5 linked regions of the Homo sapiens genome follow. The gene in region 4 interacts genetically with the main gene of each other region. Each region holds a gene or a part of one and is shown on either strand. Other genes may lie near its edges. The genes, in order: EGFR, PTP4A3, HAPSTR1, ARNT and FASN.

What was found.
Region 1: changes in ARNT (region 4) and EGFR together harm fitness more than expected from each alone (negative genetic interaction), as found in Homo sapiens cells (one large-scale study listed by BioGRID).
Region 2: changes in ARNT (region 4) and PTP4A3 together harm fitness less than expected from each alone (positive genetic interaction), as found in Homo sapiens cells (one study listed by BioGRID).
Region 3: changes in ARNT (region 4) and HAPSTR1 together harm fitness less than expected from each alone (positive genetic interaction), as found in Homo sapiens cells (one large-scale study listed by BioGRID).
Region 5: changes in ARNT (region 4) and FASN together harm fitness less than expected from each alone (positive genetic interaction), as found in Homo sapiens cells (one large-scale study listed by BioGRID).

Annotation. Positions count from the first base shown.
Region 1 is NC_000007.14:55,204,014-55,207,537, reverse strand, and holds part of EGFR (epidermal growth factor receptor isoform a precursor), read right to left. Parts: intron 2,283-3,524; coding exon 1,921-2,282; 3' UTR 1-1,920. UniProt on the Homo sapiens protein: Receptor tyrosine kinase binding ligands of the EGF family and activating several signaling cascades to convert extracellular cues into appropriate cellular responses.
Region 2 is NC_000008.11:141,395,021-141,398,520, reverse strand, and holds part of PTP4A3 (protein tyrosine phosphatase type IVA 3), read right to left. Parts: intron 1-3,500. UniProt on the Homo sapiens protein: Protein tyrosine phosphatase which stimulates progression from G1 into S phase during mitosis. Enhances cell proliferation, cell motility and invasive activity, and promotes cancer metastasis.
Region 3 is NC_000016.10:9,105,124-9,108,647, forward strand, and holds part of HAPSTR1 (HUWE1-associated protein modifying stress responses 1), read left to right. Parts: exon of another isoform or gene 1-1,641; intron 1,642-3,247; coding exon of another isoform or gene 3,248-3,381; exon of another isoform or gene 3,382-3,524. UniProt on the Homo sapiens protein: Acts as a central player within a network of stress response pathways promoting cellular adaptability. The E3 ligase HUWE1 assists HAPSTR1 in controlling stress signaling and in turn, HUWE1 feeds back to promote the degradation of HAPSTR1.
Region 4 is NC_000001.11:150,828,088-150,831,611, forward strand, and holds part of ARNT (aryl hydrocarbon receptor nuclear translocator), read right to left. Parts: intron 1,894-3,524; coding exon 1,817-1,893; intron 1,141-1,816; coding exon 1,006-1,140; intron 1-1,005. UniProt on the Homo sapiens protein: Required for activity of the AHR. Upon ligand binding, AHR translocates into the nucleus, where it heterodimerizes with ARNT and induces transcription by binding to xenobiotic response elements (XRE).
Region 5 is NC_000017.11:82,077,818-82,081,240, reverse strand, and holds the end of FASN (fatty acid synthase), read left to right. Parts: coding exon 1-77; intron 78-318; coding exon 319-549; intron 550-650; coding exon 651-871; intron 872-1,002; coding exon 1,003-1,101; intron 1,102-1,632; coding exon 1,633-1,884; intron 1,885-1,960; coding exon 1,961-2,098; 3' UTR 2,099-2,903; downstream 2,904-3,423. UniProt on the Homo sapiens protein: Fatty acid synthetase is a multifunctional enzyme that catalyzes the de novo biosynthesis of long-chain saturated fatty acids starting from acetyl-CoA and malonyl-CoA in the presence of NADPH.

The sequences.
Region 1 (3,524 bases), on a different chromosome or scaffold from region 4:
CTGCTCTGTGCTCTCACAGTGCCTGGCTGATGGGTCCTGTCTGGCATTTGTCACGTTGTTTTAAGGTTAGCATCTATGAGTCCATTTCCTTTGCTAAATTGTGAATTTCTTAGAATCAGGGACTATGTTTTATTTATCTTTGTATCTTTCATACCCATACCAGGCTAGTATAGATGCTTAGGGGTATTTGAGAGCATAATAGAGTGGAAATGAATATAGTTTTATTTTCATTGAGACAAAAATCAAATACTTTCTTAACAATGCTGTAGGGGCTCTGACTGATCTGGGAGTCAAAAATTACTTTAAAAGCAAAAGGAACATTTTGTATGTGTGTGTGACTGAACATAACTGTAGGCTGAAAATATTTTCTGAACCATTTCTTCCTTGATAAATTGGATGGGGTGGATATTGACTAGGAGAGTTTAAAACACTGTTTACAAAGGACTGCTGTTAACCAGTCAGGTTACAGGGCACACACAGATTAGGAAAAAAGGTGGGCTCCTAACTAGCTGAATCTTCCAATCTTCCAATTGTAGAGAAATTATTTTAGGAAGGAACTTTTTTCCTTCTAAAACATCTGCAAATGTTGTGAAAGCATTATCAATTTCAAACCCTAGTTTCATATTTACTACCTGAATTCCACACTACTCATAATGCTACTGTCATTCGCACCTGTAAAATGCCCTGTTGTGGCCAGAGCTGTAAGTGCTTGAATAGATGACTCAAGGCAGAGACACTTTTTGTGTGACAAAGCGTAAGGAGGGGGTTTGGGGGCAGCTGACCTGGAGGGAACATATACTCTTTGAGTAAAAAGCTTTTGAAGTGAAGTAAAAGGAGAAAACTATCTTCCATAAGTAACACAAACTAATTTTGGGGGGTTGGGGTGATGGCTAAAGGAGATTTCAGAGCAGCTTCATTTTTGTAGTCTTCTGATCTATGCCCCAAAGGACCTGATGCATTTCATCTGAGCCTCAAATTAGGAGATACGTTTTTGCGAGAACAAAAGCGGTGCTATCCTTAGGTATTCCACATTCTCAGCTGTGGGCTATTGGTCCAAATGCTGATGAATCCAATGTGGGCTGGAATCCGAGTTATTATTTGATGTGTCATCCTCTCTTGCTGATTTCATGACAGCAAGACAGGGGCAGCATACTGAGTTTCAAAACAATGGAATGGAAGACAAACAAGTCAGTCTAACGCTCATGACTGGAAACCACTGGTCCATCAGTGGGGAGTAAGTACCGTGGGGACATTTTTACAAAAGTAAGTCTAAGGAAGAATTCCATCCCCTCCGTTTCTTCTTTGCCCAGGAAGGGACAGAGTGGCTTATCCTACTGTACCTGCCATGACTTGATACAGTACCGATCCGGCCTGCTGGGGCCATGAAGGCCTTCTTGGATCTTTAGTGTTTTGCAGTGGAAGCCTTGAAGCAGAACCACTGGAATCAAGCATCCTCTGGAAGACTTGTGGCTTGTGCTCCTTGCTCACAGTTGGGCCTGGATGAACTCAGGGTAGCAAGTGCTACCAGCAAGCTTCTTCCTTGTTGGAAGAGCCCATTGAAGTAAAAATCAATAGCGACAATGAAAAACTCCAAGATCCCCAATCAATAAAAATCCTCACATATACTTTTTTTTTTTTTCAAATATACCTCTTTGAAAGATAAATTTCTGCTCAAAGGGACAATATTCTTGCTGGATGCGTTTCTGTAAATGCTTCACAGTTTGAAGACAAAGGAATGCAACTTCCCAAAATGTGCCCGAGGTGGAAGTACTTCCTGGCTAGTCGGTGTAAACGTTGCAAAACCAGTCTGTGGGTCTAAGAGCTAATGCGGGCATGGCTGTTGGGATGGAGGACCTGCTGTGGCTTGGTCCTGGGTATCGAAAGAGTCTGGATTTTTAGGGCTCATACTATCCTCCGTGGTCATGCTCCAATAAATTCACTGCTTTGTGGCGCGACCCTTAGGTATTCTGCATTTTCAGCTGTGGAGCCCTTAAAGATGCCATTTGGCTTGGCTTCCTTGGGAAAGAAGTCCTGCTGGTAGTCAGGGTTGTCCAGGCTAATTTGGTGGCTGCCTTTCTGGGCCCAGTGGGCAGGGCTGTCGAATGTGCTGTTGACACAGGTGGGCTGGACAGTGTTGAGATACTCGGGGTTGCCCACTGCAGTGCTGTGGGGGTCCTGGTAGTGTGGGTCTCTGCTGGGCGCGGGGTTCAGAGGCTGATTGTGATAGACAGGATTCTGCACAGAGCCAGCGGGCCTTTTGGGAACGGACTGGTTTATGTATTCTGAAAGTGGAAAGAAATCAGAGGTGAAGTAATCAGCAAAGCACCATCCCATGCAGGATCCCTGGGTTCTGAACCCTGTGAATGTCCTCAACAAGGAGACTTATGACAGGGAGCAGGAGCCTCGGGAGGGCCCTCTTGCTGTTGCTGCAAAAGAAAGTGGGTTCTTTCCTGTCCTTCTCAAAGTAATGGACATATGTGTCTTTTGTAAATTTAAAGTTCTCAGAGGATAAACTGCCTTGAGGAGAGTGTGTGTATGTGTGTGTGTATGTGTATGCATGTATACATATATGTGTGATGTGTATGTGGTATGTGTGTCTGGTGTGTGTATATGTGTGTGTATGTGCACCGTGTGTGTGGTGTATGTGTGTGTGGTGTATATTTGTATGTGTGTGTGGTGTGTGCATGTGGGTGTGTGTGGTGTGTGTGTACGTGTGTGTATATGTGGTGTGTGTATACGTGTGTATGTATGGTGTGTGTGGTGTGTATGTGTCTATTGTGTATGTATGTGTGGTATGAGTTGTGTGTGTGTGGTGTGGGTGTGTATGTGGTGTGTCTATGTGTGTCTGTGGTGTGTGTGGTGTGTGTACGTGTGTGTGGTGTGTGTATGTGTATGTATGTGTGGTGTGTGTCTGTGGTGTGTGTGTGGTGTGTGTACGTGTGTGTATGTGTGGTGTGTGTGTGGTGTGTATGTGTGTGGTGTGTATGTGTGTGTGTATATATGCGTATGTGTGGGGTGTATATGTTTGTGTGTGTGTGGGGTTTTTGTGGTGTGTGTGTGGTGTGTGTATTTGTGTGTGTTGTGTGTATATGTGGTGTGTGTGTACATGTGTACATATGGTGTGTGGTGTGTATATGTCTATATGTTTATGCATGTGTGGTGTCTGTGTGGTGTTGGTGTGTATGTGTGCATACATATGTGTATGTGGTGTGTATGTGTGTGTGTGGCGTGTGTACATGTGTGGTGTGTGGATGTGTATGTATGTGTGGTGTGTGTGTGGTGTGTATGTGTGTGTGGTGTGTGTGTACGTTTGTGTATATGTGGTGTGTGTGTACATGTGTATGGTGTGTGTCGTGTGTGTCTGTGTGTATGTGTGTGTGTAGTTGGTGTGTGTAGTTGGTGTGTAAAGAGGTATATCATCTGCCTTAACTTGCATTTTTCTAATAGCTTATAATATTGATAATCTGTTTATATTATATTAGATAGCCAATAAACTATATATTAGATATTACACTAACATATAT
Region 2 (3,500 bases), on a different chromosome or scaffold from region 4:
CCCTGCTCCACCTCACCACCTCACTCTAGAACATTCCCTGGTTCCTGCCACTCCATGCCCCAGGATGGGAGTCAGGGACTTGAACCCTAGTATGCTGAGTCTGGGGTGTTCCCAGACGCCCGTCTGCCCACATCAGCAACGCTGGCTCCTGCAGGGGTGCTGGAATCTCTGGGAGTTGGAGGCTGTGCCTCAAGCAGAACCAAGCAATCAGGGAGTGCTTCCCAACTTATAACCACTCAAATGGTCCAGCCTCTTATTGGCAAGTGCAGAGCAGAGACTCCAAGGGATGTTATGCCCACCTCTGAGGGTCACCTAGCAGGAGACCTGGGCCCCACTGGCCCACTCCACCCCTCATCCAGCAAATAAACCCTGAGCACTGGCTAGGCCAAGCCCTGGGCAGAAGGCACAGGGGCCCTCTTCTTGGCCATCCCAACACCACTGGGCCCTGACCACATCTTCCAGGGCCAAGGGCTCCAGCCTGGGCACCTCCAAGCAGGCCTCAGGCAGACGCCTCCCTCCCTGCTCCGCCTGCGCTGACTGTCCAGGGTCCTGCATCCAGGTCTCGGCCCGTCCAGGACTGAGCCACACACAGCGAGGCTCACACATGATAAAGGCAGGAGCCGGGCCGACCCTGGACAGAGAGCGGGCTAGTGGTGCCAAGCCCTCAGAACCAGGGGCAGCAGGAGGAGCAATGCCCAACTCAGGTCCAATTTCTGCAAAACATTTTGTTCAACTCCCTTCCAGCTCTGATGGGCAAAGATAACAGAATCTCTCTGAACTATCCAGAAAGATCACTGCCTTTTATGGACAAGAACACTGGTCCCAAAGAGGTCGAAACCAGGCTCCACAGCCACCGAGGCACTCAGGCCCCAAGGCAGGGTTCTCATGACCAATACCCGCCCCGCCACCTGCCTTGTGAGGGTCTGCAGGGGACGTGCACCCCACCTTCACCTCCTGACTCACTGGACTCCCAACTGAGGCCAGCGGGGAGCATGTGCCCAGCGTGGGGCAGCCAGGTGGCGGAGTTGTCATTGTTCTGTACTTGTGGTAGGAGCTGGGCATGGCAGAGGCCCTTCCCAGCAGGACTCCTGCCCTCTCCCACCCAACCCCAACCCAGGACAGGCCTTACAGGCAGAAGTTTCAGCCCACCCGGGGGCTCCATTCAGGTCACTGGGACCTCCTTCAGAGAGCCCCCCACTGCCTGGAGCCTGTGTGACCTCATGAAGTGACAGAGCATCAGCCTCTCATTGTACAATGGGCAGGCAGCCTGTCCTGTTGTCACAGGGACCCACCAGGATGAGGTTGGCACAGCCCTGCACACCCTGGCAGCCACCTTCCCCGAGCCCCGGCTTCCCTGCGTGTAACACAGCTCTCACTCCGGCTCCAGGAGCCGCTCTGGCCCTGAGGAGGTGGCTAGAGCCAAATTCAACACAGATCAACCTGTGTTCATCCCCCTAGCCCTCTGGGGTCTTCCAGCCTGGCTTCCTCCCTGGCCGGGAAAACAGCAAGGGAGGAGAGGCTGTGGGCTCCAGGCCCCCAGCCAGCCCGGCTACCCTCCCACAGGAGTACCTGGCTCAAGGGCAGGTCCCAGAGAGCACAGCCCAGGCTGTTTCCTTCCCTGGATCGTTCATCCACTGTGTCTGGAACCCCAGCGGGCTCAGTGCACTCAGGACCCGCACGTCAGCTTGTCGGCTCCACACATGCAGCCCCTCGGGTTATGCGTGGTCTTGTCCCACGTGAGAAGGGAACACTGAGACTCAGAAGGTGACATGACCAAGCTGGCGTGGCCAAGCTAGCCCTTCCCGAGGCCACCGTCTCCCCACCCTGTAGCCCCCATCCCCACCTCATCTCTTCCTGGCCAAATCATCAGCGGTGCCCTTTGTCCCCCGTGTGCCTGTGGTGCAGCTGCTCCACTTGGCGCCAGCTCCTCGGGGCAGGGCTCGGGACTGTCCTGTTCCCAGTGGGCCAGAGCAGGCACACAGTAGGTGCTCCAGGGCTGTGGGCTCGGTGAGAGAGGAATGCTGGACGGGCTGCCCGGGGCCAGATTCCATACCACCTGATGACCTGGAGCTGCTCACCCCACTGGCACCATCACCCAAATGACCAGCACCCTCCCCTGCCCATTTACTGACCTTTCCCCAAAAAGGAGGCATGGCCAGCGTTCAAATTCCTGCTCTCCTCCCAGCAGTGACCCTGGCACGTCACTTCTCCCCTAGGGTCCTTCCCTGGCTCTAGGGCAGGACGGTAATATGAACACTTACCCGCCAGAGGTCTCAATCCTCTAGGATGAAGGGAGTTAAAATGCATCAAGTTTTACGTATGAGTCCATCACGGTCCTGACCAATGGCACCCACAGCCCAGATAATGGGGCCGGTTCTGGCTGTACCGCAATCACCAGGCACTGCCAAGGAGCCCCACCTTCACATGGCACGGGGTTACAGTCACGGCAGGGGTGGGGGTTACACATCAGGTTAGGCCTGCTTCCTCTGAGCCAGTGGCAGGGTTGGCGGGGGCAGGTGGCCAGGACAGGGTGGGAGAGGGGAGGCAGCCCCATCTGTCCCCAGCCAGGGTGGCCCTTGGCAGGCAACAGCAATGACTGTGCTGCATTTCCACTCCTTCTAGAAGCATAAGCCCTGACATGAGGGCACCCCTACATCTGGGGAAGACACCAGGAGAGGAGCCGGGGGGCATGGGAGCACCCCTACATCCCGGGAAGATGCCAGGAGAGGAGCCAGGGGACATCCCCACTGGGTAGATGAACGGGGGCTGCAGGAGGGAGGGGTGGCCCACGCACCTACCCCGGGTAGATGAACGGGGGCTGCAGGAGGGAGGGGTGGCCCACGCACCTTCCCCAGGTAGATGAACGGGGGCTGCAGGAGGGAGGGGTGGCCCATGCACCTATCCTGGGTAGATGAACGGGGGCTGCAGGAGGGAGGGGTGGCCCACGCACCTAAGGGGAAGTGGGGGTGCACTGGGCAATGGCCCCCAGTTCCCCTCCAGGAGGAAGGTAAACCTGAGGGCCCACTCTCAGGACCCCAGCTGAGCCCTGAGCCATGTGGTCATCCCTGACCCTCAGTTCCGCTTCCAAACCAGGAGGCTGCCACTAAAGCAGCCCAAGACTGAGTGGCACGTGCCTGGCGGGAAGCGATGCCCCACCTAGGGGTCCTTAGGGCCACACCCTTGGCTGGGAGGAACAGCCTGTCCTTATTTTCTGAACTGTCTTTTGTACAACAGCCTTGGCGCAGCTCAAAGGATAAGTGAGGTTCTCAGGGTCCTGACCTGAGGCGCCCCAAGGAGGGGAGACACGCGCACACTCTCTGCCAGGTGAACGCCTACTGGGCCATCGGAACCCACAGCTCGTGCCCCACCCACACTGGCACGGGCTGTGTCCACGTAGCCCTGATCCCGCTCGGCTAAAGAGCGCAGCTCTCAGCTGCCGTAGGTAGCTGCCAGGACCCTCCACCCTCTGCTCAGGCTCCTGGGTGGAAGGAAGCACCCGT
Region 3 (3,524 bases), on a different chromosome or scaffold from region 4:
GAATCTGTTCCACCTGTGATTTATTGTTTTCCTGAACTTTGGGAGTTTTAAGCAATGATACAGTTGAAGGGACTGTTTATAATTTTCACATGTTTAAGTTGTGAGGCTTTAAAACTTAAATATAAGGCTTTGTCTAGGAAGAAAATGATCTTTACCTTCAATAAATTTATAATGTAGCACTAATCCAGTATAGATTGGAGACTGAATGCATTCTTACTCTTAGGGTTCATACCTCTAATTCATGTGGTTAAGACAGTGTTGTGGTGAAGTAATAGGGCCCCTTGAAAGAATCTACAGAAACATAAATTATACTGAGTTGTGCTGTACTGGTTTGTGAGAACATCAGTGTATTAAGGAGAATGGTAGTTTAATTTGAATATTTAAAGAAAGTAATTTGAATGGTTCTAGTACTAGGGCCATTATTAACTAGTAACATAGATTAGTGACTTCAACTGGGTGTCCTTATTATCTGATTTGTCTGAAGTGAAAACTGTTAAGGTGCTCTTTTAAAATGTATTTGGAAACACCATAGTTAGGGTAAATACAATGTCACAATTCACTCTTGCATATTATTTGCTTAGCCAAATTTATGAATTCTAAGTTAGGCCAAATTGAAGGTTTTGGAGTTTTACATTGTGGGTGAGTCTAAATTCATGCGTTTGGCAAGCACAAGGACATGGGAAAAGAATCTGGTATTTTGAGGCAGGCTTGAGTTTATAATGAAAGCAAACTCAGTTCCTCTTCATGTCCTATGTATTTAAGAGAGGACAGTTTTCCCTCAGTTTTTTTCCCCTTCCTTACCCCTACCCCCATCAAATACAGCCCAACCAAATAACTGTGTTCTTAATTTAAAGGAAAATGGCAGACTTGACACCTGCTGAATATTTCGTGTAGACAGAGTATGACAATGAATGAGATCCCCAGTCATTGCCCTTGTAAGCCTGGGAACCCAGTTTAGTGGGAGAGACTAATGTAAACAGCTTTAATCAAAAGTATATCAATTGGCCGGGTGCTGTGGCTCACACCTATAATGCCGGCACTTTGGGAGGCCAAGGTGGGTGGATCACTTGAGGTCAGGAGTTTGAGACCACCCTGGCCAACATGGTGAAACCCTCTCCCTATTTAAAGAAAAAAAAGTAAGGCATATCAATTTATGGTTATCAAATAGGTTTTTTTTTTTTTTTTTGAGACTGAGTGTCGCTCTATAGCCCAGGCTGGAGTGTAGTGCTCACTGCGACTTCCGCCTCCTGGGTTCAAATGATTCTCGTGCCTCAGTCTCCCGAGTAGCTGGGATTGTAGGCGCCTGCCACCACGCCCAGCTAATTTTTGTATTTGTAGTAGAGATGGGGTTTCATCATGTTGGCGAAGCTGGTCTTGAACACCTGACCTCAAGTGATCTGCCTTAGCCTCACTGCTTGCCCCTAAGTGGTGGGATTGCAGGTGTGAGCCACTGTGCTGGCCTCAAATAGTTTTTATCAAAGCTACTTCAATTAGTGGTTAGCAAGGCTTAAAGACTAATTCAGTGCTTTATTTTGACACTTGTTCGCAACATGTTGCTTTTTTTCCTGTGTCCTATGGGACCTAGTCATCTGTATGTTAGATTCACAGAGGAATTAAAGAGATAAACATGCATGTGCTAAATTGATTTCTGTCTTGCTTTGTTATCCTATAATAATGTTATAAAATAACATTATTATAAATTTCCCAAGAGTTGAATTAATACCAACAACTGGTAACTCGTTTTTATGTAAACAGCATACTTGAGACCAGAAATCTTCTGGATCACTTTGTGGATCTCTGCCTGCCATTCTCATTGGTCCTCTGTTCATCCCTTTTCTAGAGCTTCTCCTTACCTTGGCTTCTCTTCTGCCACATTGGCCTGCCTGACCTGTCCTCAGGCCCTGTCACTGCCCTAGATTACGTTTCCCATGTCTTCACTTCCAAATCTGGACCTCTCGTTTAGACCTTCTCTCCTGACTGCCAGATGGCATGTCCCACTGTCCTCCGGTGTACATCTCCAAATTGTCCCACAGGCATTTATCTCAGATGAAGTTTCAGGTTGGACTCATTCTTCTGCCCCAACAGCAGAATGACTCATTGAGCCATTGAGCCATTCAGCACATTCTCTATATGGCAGATTCGGTGCTGTCTCTGGAAATACATAAACATAGAGCGATTCCTTTTTCTGTTGAGGCAAAATATGGATTTGGTTAATTTCTATTCACGTCATGAATGTGGTATGTGGAAGGTCTTCTGAGAGCAGAAAGGGATGTTTCACAGCACAGCCCGGCTGTGTGGTGCTCAGGGCAGGCCCTCTGGAGGAGGTGAGCCTGGGCTCTTGGCCTAATGTTTCAGCTCTCACTTTCCAGTCCTGAGCTGTTGTTGCCAGTCCATCTTTCATGAGACCATTGGAGTGATCTTTCTGGTCTTGTCACTTCATGGTTTAAAGTTTCCCTGGGCCTACACAGTGAAGTCCAAATTCAGCATGGTATTACAAGACCCTTATGATCCAGTCTTAACCATTGGTTAGGTATCCTACCCATACTGTTTATCTCTTGAATACCTCTATGCTCTTTGACAAGTCCAGCCCCTACGTGTTCATACCTCACTTCTGTGACACAGCCTTGCTTCAGGGCTCCCAATCTCTGTAGCCTCCCTGAACTGTGCATTTGCTCTGCTGCTTGATTTGTTTCTGTGACTGTTCCATTCTCCTCGGGACACATAGCAGGGACCTTGTCTTGGTCCTTTTTTTTTTGGCTTTAACAGAACATAGCAAAGAACCTGACATAGGTGTAGTCTGAGTTTACCACTGGGGTTATCACAGAGGTCTGCTAAGTGAATACAACACAGTGGGGACCCAGAACCTCTAGAAAGGGTTGAGGATTACAATCCCCAGATAGCTACAATCAGGGAATAATGTAACCTGTTTGCCTAGGGTGCTACATGGTAATCTTGAATTAGAACAACTGAGACTTCCATGGGACCTTAGGGTGATAACCATTAAACCTACTCTTTCAGTGTTTACTTTGTAAAAGCATCACACTAAGGAGGTTGTCATTTAATCCTCACACCTACCCTGGGTTATTAACACTGTTGATGAAGAAAGCCTTACTTGGCTAAGATATGGAGCAGGTTAGTAAGTGGTAGAATAGATACTCCAGTCCTGTCTCCAAAATGCAAATTTTTTTTTAATTAAAAAAATTTCTAATTTTCAATATATTTATTTTTGATTTTTTATTTTCTGTAGAGTTGGAGTTTCGCCATGTTGTCCAGGCTGGTCTCGAACTCATGGGTGCAAGCCATACCCCAACCTCGACCTTCCGAAGTGTTGGGAATACTGGCATGAGCCATGATGCCTGGCCTCAAAATGCATACCCTTAACCACTATGCTCTCACATTTTTAGATGTGGGATTTCTGTCTACGACGTCGCCCCCACTAAGACCTAGGGCTTAGGTGTCGAGGTGGGAAAGATCTTGAGGCTTTTCTTCTCAAAATTAATCAGAAACGATGTGAATTTTATATC
Region 4 (3,524 bases):
TCTGGTCTTTTCATTTTCTTAATAATATCCTTTAAAGAGGGCAAATTTTAATTACAATTAAATCCAATTTATAATTTTTTTTCTTCTGTGAATCATGCTTTTAGTGTAAGAAATCTTTTGCCTAACTCAAAATCACAAAGATTTTCTCCTAGGAGTTTATTTGTAACTTTAGCTCTTACACATTTAGGCCTCTAAGCTGATTTTTGTAAATTGTATGAGGTAAGATCTATGTGTTTTCATTTTTGGGTGTGGTTTTTTTTTTGTTTTTTTTTTTTTTTGCATACAGATATCCAATTGTTCCATTTGTTAGAAATATTTATTTTATCCATTGAATTGTCTTGTCACCTTTGCTGAAAATTAGTTGACAAGTATAAGAATAGACCTTATTCTGGTCTATTGATCTATATATCTATCCTTACACCAACACCACAGTGTCTTGGTAATAGCTTTATAGTTAGTGTTGAATCAGGTAGTGTAAATTCTCTTTGTTCTTTGTTTTCAAGACCTCTTTTTCACCAACCTCTTTCACATAGCCACAGCCAGAAGTCCTTCCGACCCACAACAGTTTTAAAAGTTTATATGATGCGTCAATTCAGAGATGGCTAACTGGTCTGTTGCATGAGTAAATTATAATAACTGGTGCTAAATCTGCATGTTTTATGGGCCATTATTCATTTAGGTAATTACATGAATTATCTAAATGTAGCTATACTGGTATAACTAATTAATATGAGTACCTTTGAATCATCTGTATTAATATCAACAACAAAAAATAAATACATATTTGTACCTGCTGCTCCCACCTGGTTTGACAAGCCATATTTCTCTACATGAGATGACAGTCCTAATAGGAAGCTGAAAATAATGTTAGGTACTAACAGAATATGATGATCTCTTTTTCTTAACTGAGGTTGATATGTTTTGGCTGTCTTAGGAACTACATGATTACATAATGTCAACATAGCCAAAGGAAAATGGAGGCCTAATGGAGCTCCAGCTCCTCACCTGTGGCTGGTAGCCAACAGTAGCCACACAGCGGTGATCCACAAAAGTGAAGATACCCTCAATGTTGTGTCGGGAGATGAACTCTGTTGGTTGACAAACATTACTCATGTCTGTACAGTTGGGAGAACTAGTTACCTGAGAGTGAAGAGATAAAAATGAGGTAAAATGATACCATTATTTACAGATGTATTTCCTATCTCCTCATGGTCTTTTGCATAGACATAAGATTCCCAGTTTTAGGACTTTCTAAACTTTCACATTTTATCCAAAAAGGAAAAAAAAATGACAATCACAATCAGACAAGGCATAAGGTCTAGCTCTGCTCCCATACATTTACACTTTACCAAGTTAGTAAAGTAAGAATAAAGTTTATTCAATCTAAAATCCACATACTGGCTATGCTGAACTCATTACTCAGGTTGATATGGTACAAGTAACCAAGAAACTTATCTATACTTATGAAAAAATCAAAATAATTCCACTTTTCTATTGTTAGTCAGGTAATGATACAATGAAAAGGATCTTTCTTCTTTTGTATAGGGGCAAAGGAAATTAACTGGAAATAGAAAATTAAGCATAGTAAAGCTAAAATTAAGACAAGGGGAAAAAGATCTCCCTCCTCTCATACTTTTCAACTTTACTTAAATCCAAGAATAGCAATGGTCACTATAAATGCCATATTCCTTCAAATTTTGAGAGTTTTATGGAATTCTTCATTTGTATTCAGAAAGTAAAAGAAAATTAACAGGAATGAGTCCTGAAGATCTGCTCTAATTGAACGGGAATATAGATGTGGAAAATTCATACTTGCCTGCAATCTGCCAATGGCCACTAGGCAAAACTTGCTTCCCTGGCCAGCCTCTGGGTCATCATCTGGGAGGGAAACACCTTCAGAAACGTGACGTTAAAAGGTTTAACGGGGACCTCCAACTCAAATGCCTTCAAAACTCAGACAAGTAAAGATTCAAAATAGACCTATTTATGGGCCAGGCACCGTGGCTGACGCCTGTAATCCCAACACTTTGGGAAGCCAAGGTGGGCGGATCACTTGAGGACCAGCCTGGCCGACACAGTGAAACCCCATCTCTACTAAAAATACAAAAATTAGCCAGGCATGGTGGCATGCACCTGTAATCCCAGCTACTTGGGAGGCTGAGGTGAGAGAATCACTTGAACCCAGGAGGCGGAGGATGCAGTGAGCCGAGATCGCACTACTGCACTCCAGCCTGGGCGACAGACAGAGTGAGACTCCCTCTCAAAAAAAAAACCAAAAAGCAAAACAAAACAAAATACATCTAGTTATGAAGAGGCTAAGCATAAAGCAATAGAGAATGATAAATAAGAATAAACAAGTATATAAAACTTACCATATATGCCAGTCATTGTTTTAAGTATTTACATATATATTAATTCCTACATTTTACCCATGTTAATTATAGTAAACTGGAAAATACAAGTCCTACCCAGAGTACTCTAAAAAACTATGCTGGCCAAATATGGCACATATGAAGACATCCATTCTATGACCATGTTATAGGCAGAAAATTTATGCTTTGCCTAATCTGTAACTTTTAAAGTTAGCAAGCAACCCAAAATGAAGTTATACCAACCATCAATAGTTATTCATGTCCCTTGGAAAAGAGAAAAACCAATGTTTTACACAGAAAGGGAAGAAGACTGCATTTCTCCCCTGTTTTTTGCATAGTTATACTCTTTTTATCCAGAAAAATAGTATTCCTTGATGCTACATAGAGGTATGAAAGATCACATACTTTAACTGTGTGGCTTATATAGTATATAGACTAAGTAGTTCAAATGTCATTACTACTTCAGTTAAATTTTTTTAAATTACATTAATTACTTTTATTGGGTTACCTGCCATATGCCAGGCACTGGGCTGGATGCTTTCCTTACATTAAATCTAATCCTCACAAAAACCCTATACAGGATGTACTAACTCTGAATTACAGATGAGAAAACTGAGCTTTATAAAGGTCAAGCAACTTACCCTAGGTGATGCCACTAATAAGTAACAATGACAGGAATCACATCCAGGTTTCTCCACATCCAAAGTTTAACCTTTTTCCAAAACACATCACCTTGCTTCTCTTTTCTCTTAGTTTCTGTCTCCCCAAAACCCCTACTTTCCAATAATACCCAGGCAGCAGGGAAGTAATAAAGTTGCTAAGATTTGGAAACTCTGACAAGCCAACTTAAAACTTTGATCCTGCAACCCAATCACCTTTCTCACATTCCTTGTTTGACCTCAAGTTCTGGTAAAGCTAATCTGCTCAAAGCTTGATTTAAAGTCTTTGCAGAGAATATCCTCTTGATAAGTTATTACAATAAAGGCATTTTCCCCTTTTCTCTCAAAGTCTTGTTCCTACTTTAGAAATCTTTCTCAAATTAACTGCATTCAATGTCTAAGTTTCTTTGCAACAAATGCTTAGAATACATATGTTCAGTATAAATTTGTTCACATAAAAACCACATTCTGTGACACAGCCAATACTGAATCA
Region 5 (3,423 bases), on a different chromosome or scaffold from region 4:
GCTGTCCGTGCGCGAGGTGCGGCAACTCACGCTCCGGAAACTGCAGGAGCTGTCCTCAAAGGCGGATGAGGCCAGCGGTGCGTGTGGGTGGCCAGGCGGGAGTGGGGTCCCCGGGCCTCCCCAGCCCTTCCTCCTTGTTGTCTGGACCGTGTCCCGGCAGGCATACCGCCCTTCGTCACGGGTGCCATTCTGAGCGTTCCCACCCCGACTCCCACCTGACGTAGCACCGTGGGGACCTGCGTGCGTGTCTGTGTGTCCTTGCGTGGGTGCCAGGGCTCTGCACCCAGACCAGCCTGGCATCTGCCCCTGTCTTCACAGAGCTGGCATGCCCCACGCCCAAGGAGGATGGTCTGGCCCAGCAGCAGACTCAGCTGAACCTGCGCTCCCTGCTGGTGAACCCGGAGGGCCCCACCCTGATGCGGCTCAACTCCGTGCAGAGCTCGGAGCGGCCCCTGTTCCTGGTGCACCCAATCGAGGGCTCCACCACCGTGTTCCACAGCCTGGCCTCCCGGCTCAGCATCCCCACCTATGGCCTGCAGTGCACCCGAGGTACTCCCGGGCCCTCCTCTGGAAGCGGTGGTCAGTGCTGGCCATCACGGGGCCCGTGGCTGCCGCCTGCACATGCTGAGTGCCCGGCACTGCCATTGCAGCTGCGCCCCTTGACAGCATCCACAGCCTGGCTGCCTACTACATCGACTGCATCAGGCAGGTGCAGCCCGAGGGCCCCTACCGCGTGGCCGGCTACTCCTACGGGGCCTGCGTGGCCTTTGAAATGTGCTCCCAGCTGCAGGCCCAGCAGAGCCCAGCCCCCACCCACAACAGCCTCTTCCTGTTCGACGGCTCGCCCACCTACGTACTGGCCTACACCCAGGTGAGAGCCAGGCTGGTCCTAGAGGCCTACGGCAAACGTCTGGGCTCCCCACCTGTGCCCTGGCTTTGGGGGACCGTCGCTTAGGAGGCCCCGCCCCTTCCATCTGCTCAGCAGTCCCTCCTTCCTCTCAGAGCTACCGGGCAAAGCTGACCCCAGGCTGTGAGGCTGAGGCTGAGACGGAGGCCATATGCTTCTTCGTGCAGCAGTTCACGGACATGGAGCACAACAGGGTGGGTCCTGGACACCCCTGAGGCCGCAGGACCCAGAGTACTGGGCAGGAACGGAAGGGGGAAGGGAAGGATGGGATGGGACGCGAAGAGCGTTAAAGGCCCCCCAACTTCACCCCTTTAATAGCCGATCCCGGCCGGATGCGGTTGCTCATGCCTGTAATCCCGGCACTTTGGGAGGCTAAGGCGGGCAGATTACCTGAGGTCGGGAGTTCGAGACCAGCCTGACCAACGTGGAGAAACCCCTTCTCTACTAAAAATACAAAAATTAGCCAGGCATGGTGGCACTCACCTATAGTCCCACCTACTCGGGAGGAGAATCGCTTGAACCGGGTAGGTGGAGGTTGCGGAGGGAGGAGAATCGCTTGAACCGGGTAGGTGGAGGTTGCGGTGAGCTGAGATCGCCCCACTCCATCTAGCCTGGGTAACAAAAATGAAACTCGTCTCAAAAAAAAAAAGCCCACCCGCAGTGTAGCACAGGGCAGGCCGGTGCTGTGGGTGCTGCCAGCACCTGCTCAGAGCCCGACCCCACAGGTGCTGGAGGCGCTGCTGCCGCTGAAGGGCCTAGAGGAGCGTGTGGCAGCCGCCGTGGACCTGATCATCAAGAGCCACCAGGGCCTGGACCGCCAGGAGCTGAGCTTTGCGGCCCGGTCCTTCTACTACAAGCTGCGTGCCGCTGAGCAGTACACACCCAAGGCCAAGTACCATGGCAACGTGATGCTACTGCGCGCCAAGACGGGTGGCGCCTACGGCGAGGACCTGGGCGCGGACTACAACCTCTCCCAGGTGCGCAAGGGGCCTGACGGGAACGGGGACAGGGACAGGAGTGGGGTGGGACGGCAGCTGATCGCATCCCCTGCAGGTATGCGACGGGAAAGTATCCGTCCACGTCATCGAGGGTGACCACCGCACGCTGCTGGAGGGCAGCGGCCTGGAGTCCATCATCAGCATCATCCACAGCTCCCTGGCTGAGCCACGCGTGAGCGTGCGGGAGGGCTAGGCCCGTGCCCCCGCCTGCCACCGGAGGTCACTCCACCATCCCCACCCCACCCCACCCCACCCCCGCCATGCAACGGGATTGAAGGGTCCTGCCGGTGGGACCCTGTCCGGCCCAGTGCCACTGCCCCCCGAGGCTGCTAGATGTAGGTGTTAGGCATGTCCCACCCACCCGCCGCCTCCCACGGCACCTCGGGGACACCAGAGCTGCCGACTTGGAGACTCCTGGTCTGTGAAGAGCCGGTGGTGCCCGTGCCCGCAGGAACTGGGCTGGGCCTCGTGCGCCCGTGGGGTCTGCGCTTGGTCTTTCTGTGCTTGGATTTGCATATTTATTGCATTGCTGGTAGAGACCCCCAGGCCTGTCCACCCTGCCAAGACTCCTCAGGCAGCGTGTGGGTCCCGCACTCTGCCCCCATTTCCCCGATGTCCCCTGCGGGCGCGGGCAGCCACCCAAGCCTGCTGGCTGCGGCCCCCTCTCGGCCAGGCATTGGCTCAGCCCGCTGAGTGGGGGGTCGTGGGCCAGTCCCCGAGGAGCTGGGCCCCTGCACAGGCACACAGGGCCCGGCCACACCCAGCGGCCCCCCGCACAGCCACCCGTGGGGTGCTGCCCTTATGCCCGGCGCCGGGCACCAACTCCATGTTTGGTGTTTGTCTGTGTTTGTTTTTCAAGAAATGATTCAAATTGCTGCTTGGATTTTGAAATTTACTGTAACTGTCAGTGTACACGTCTGGACCCCGTTTCATTTTTACACCAATTTGGTAAAAATGCTGCTCTCAGCCTCCCACAATTAAACCGCATGTGATCTCCACCACCGTCCTTTCTTCCCTCCTCCCTGACCTGGCAGCTGCAAGCTCTCCAGCTCCACCCCACCCAGTCACGGGGCCGTGAAGGGGATGCCCTCTGTCCTCTGGTCCCCAGTTCCCACACACCCCTAGGCCATGTCCCAGAGCCGGGGCTGGGCCGGGGAGTGAGGAAGGAGCCCGCGTGGCAGCCCCGGGCTTCCCGGGAAAGCGCTGGGACTGGCGGGGGGGGGGGTACCGAGGCTCTGGCCAAGAAACACCACCAGTGAGAAACGTGTAGGAGGTACAGACACTGGGAAGTTGGCTTCAGCTGAGGAGAGGCCCCTCGTGGAGAATAGTATTTGCTTGAAGTCAGTGGATTGCAGGCATTCGCCCTGCCAAAGATGCCGTCACAGCCTCACCAAGACGGTGTCAATAGCGCCACTGGCTGGCCAGGTTGACCCAGAAGACTTGGGTTTAGGCAAAGGAGTGGAGGCTGGGAGGGAGCAAGGGACAGGGAGCCCTGGGCACCTGGACCCCCGGCATCGA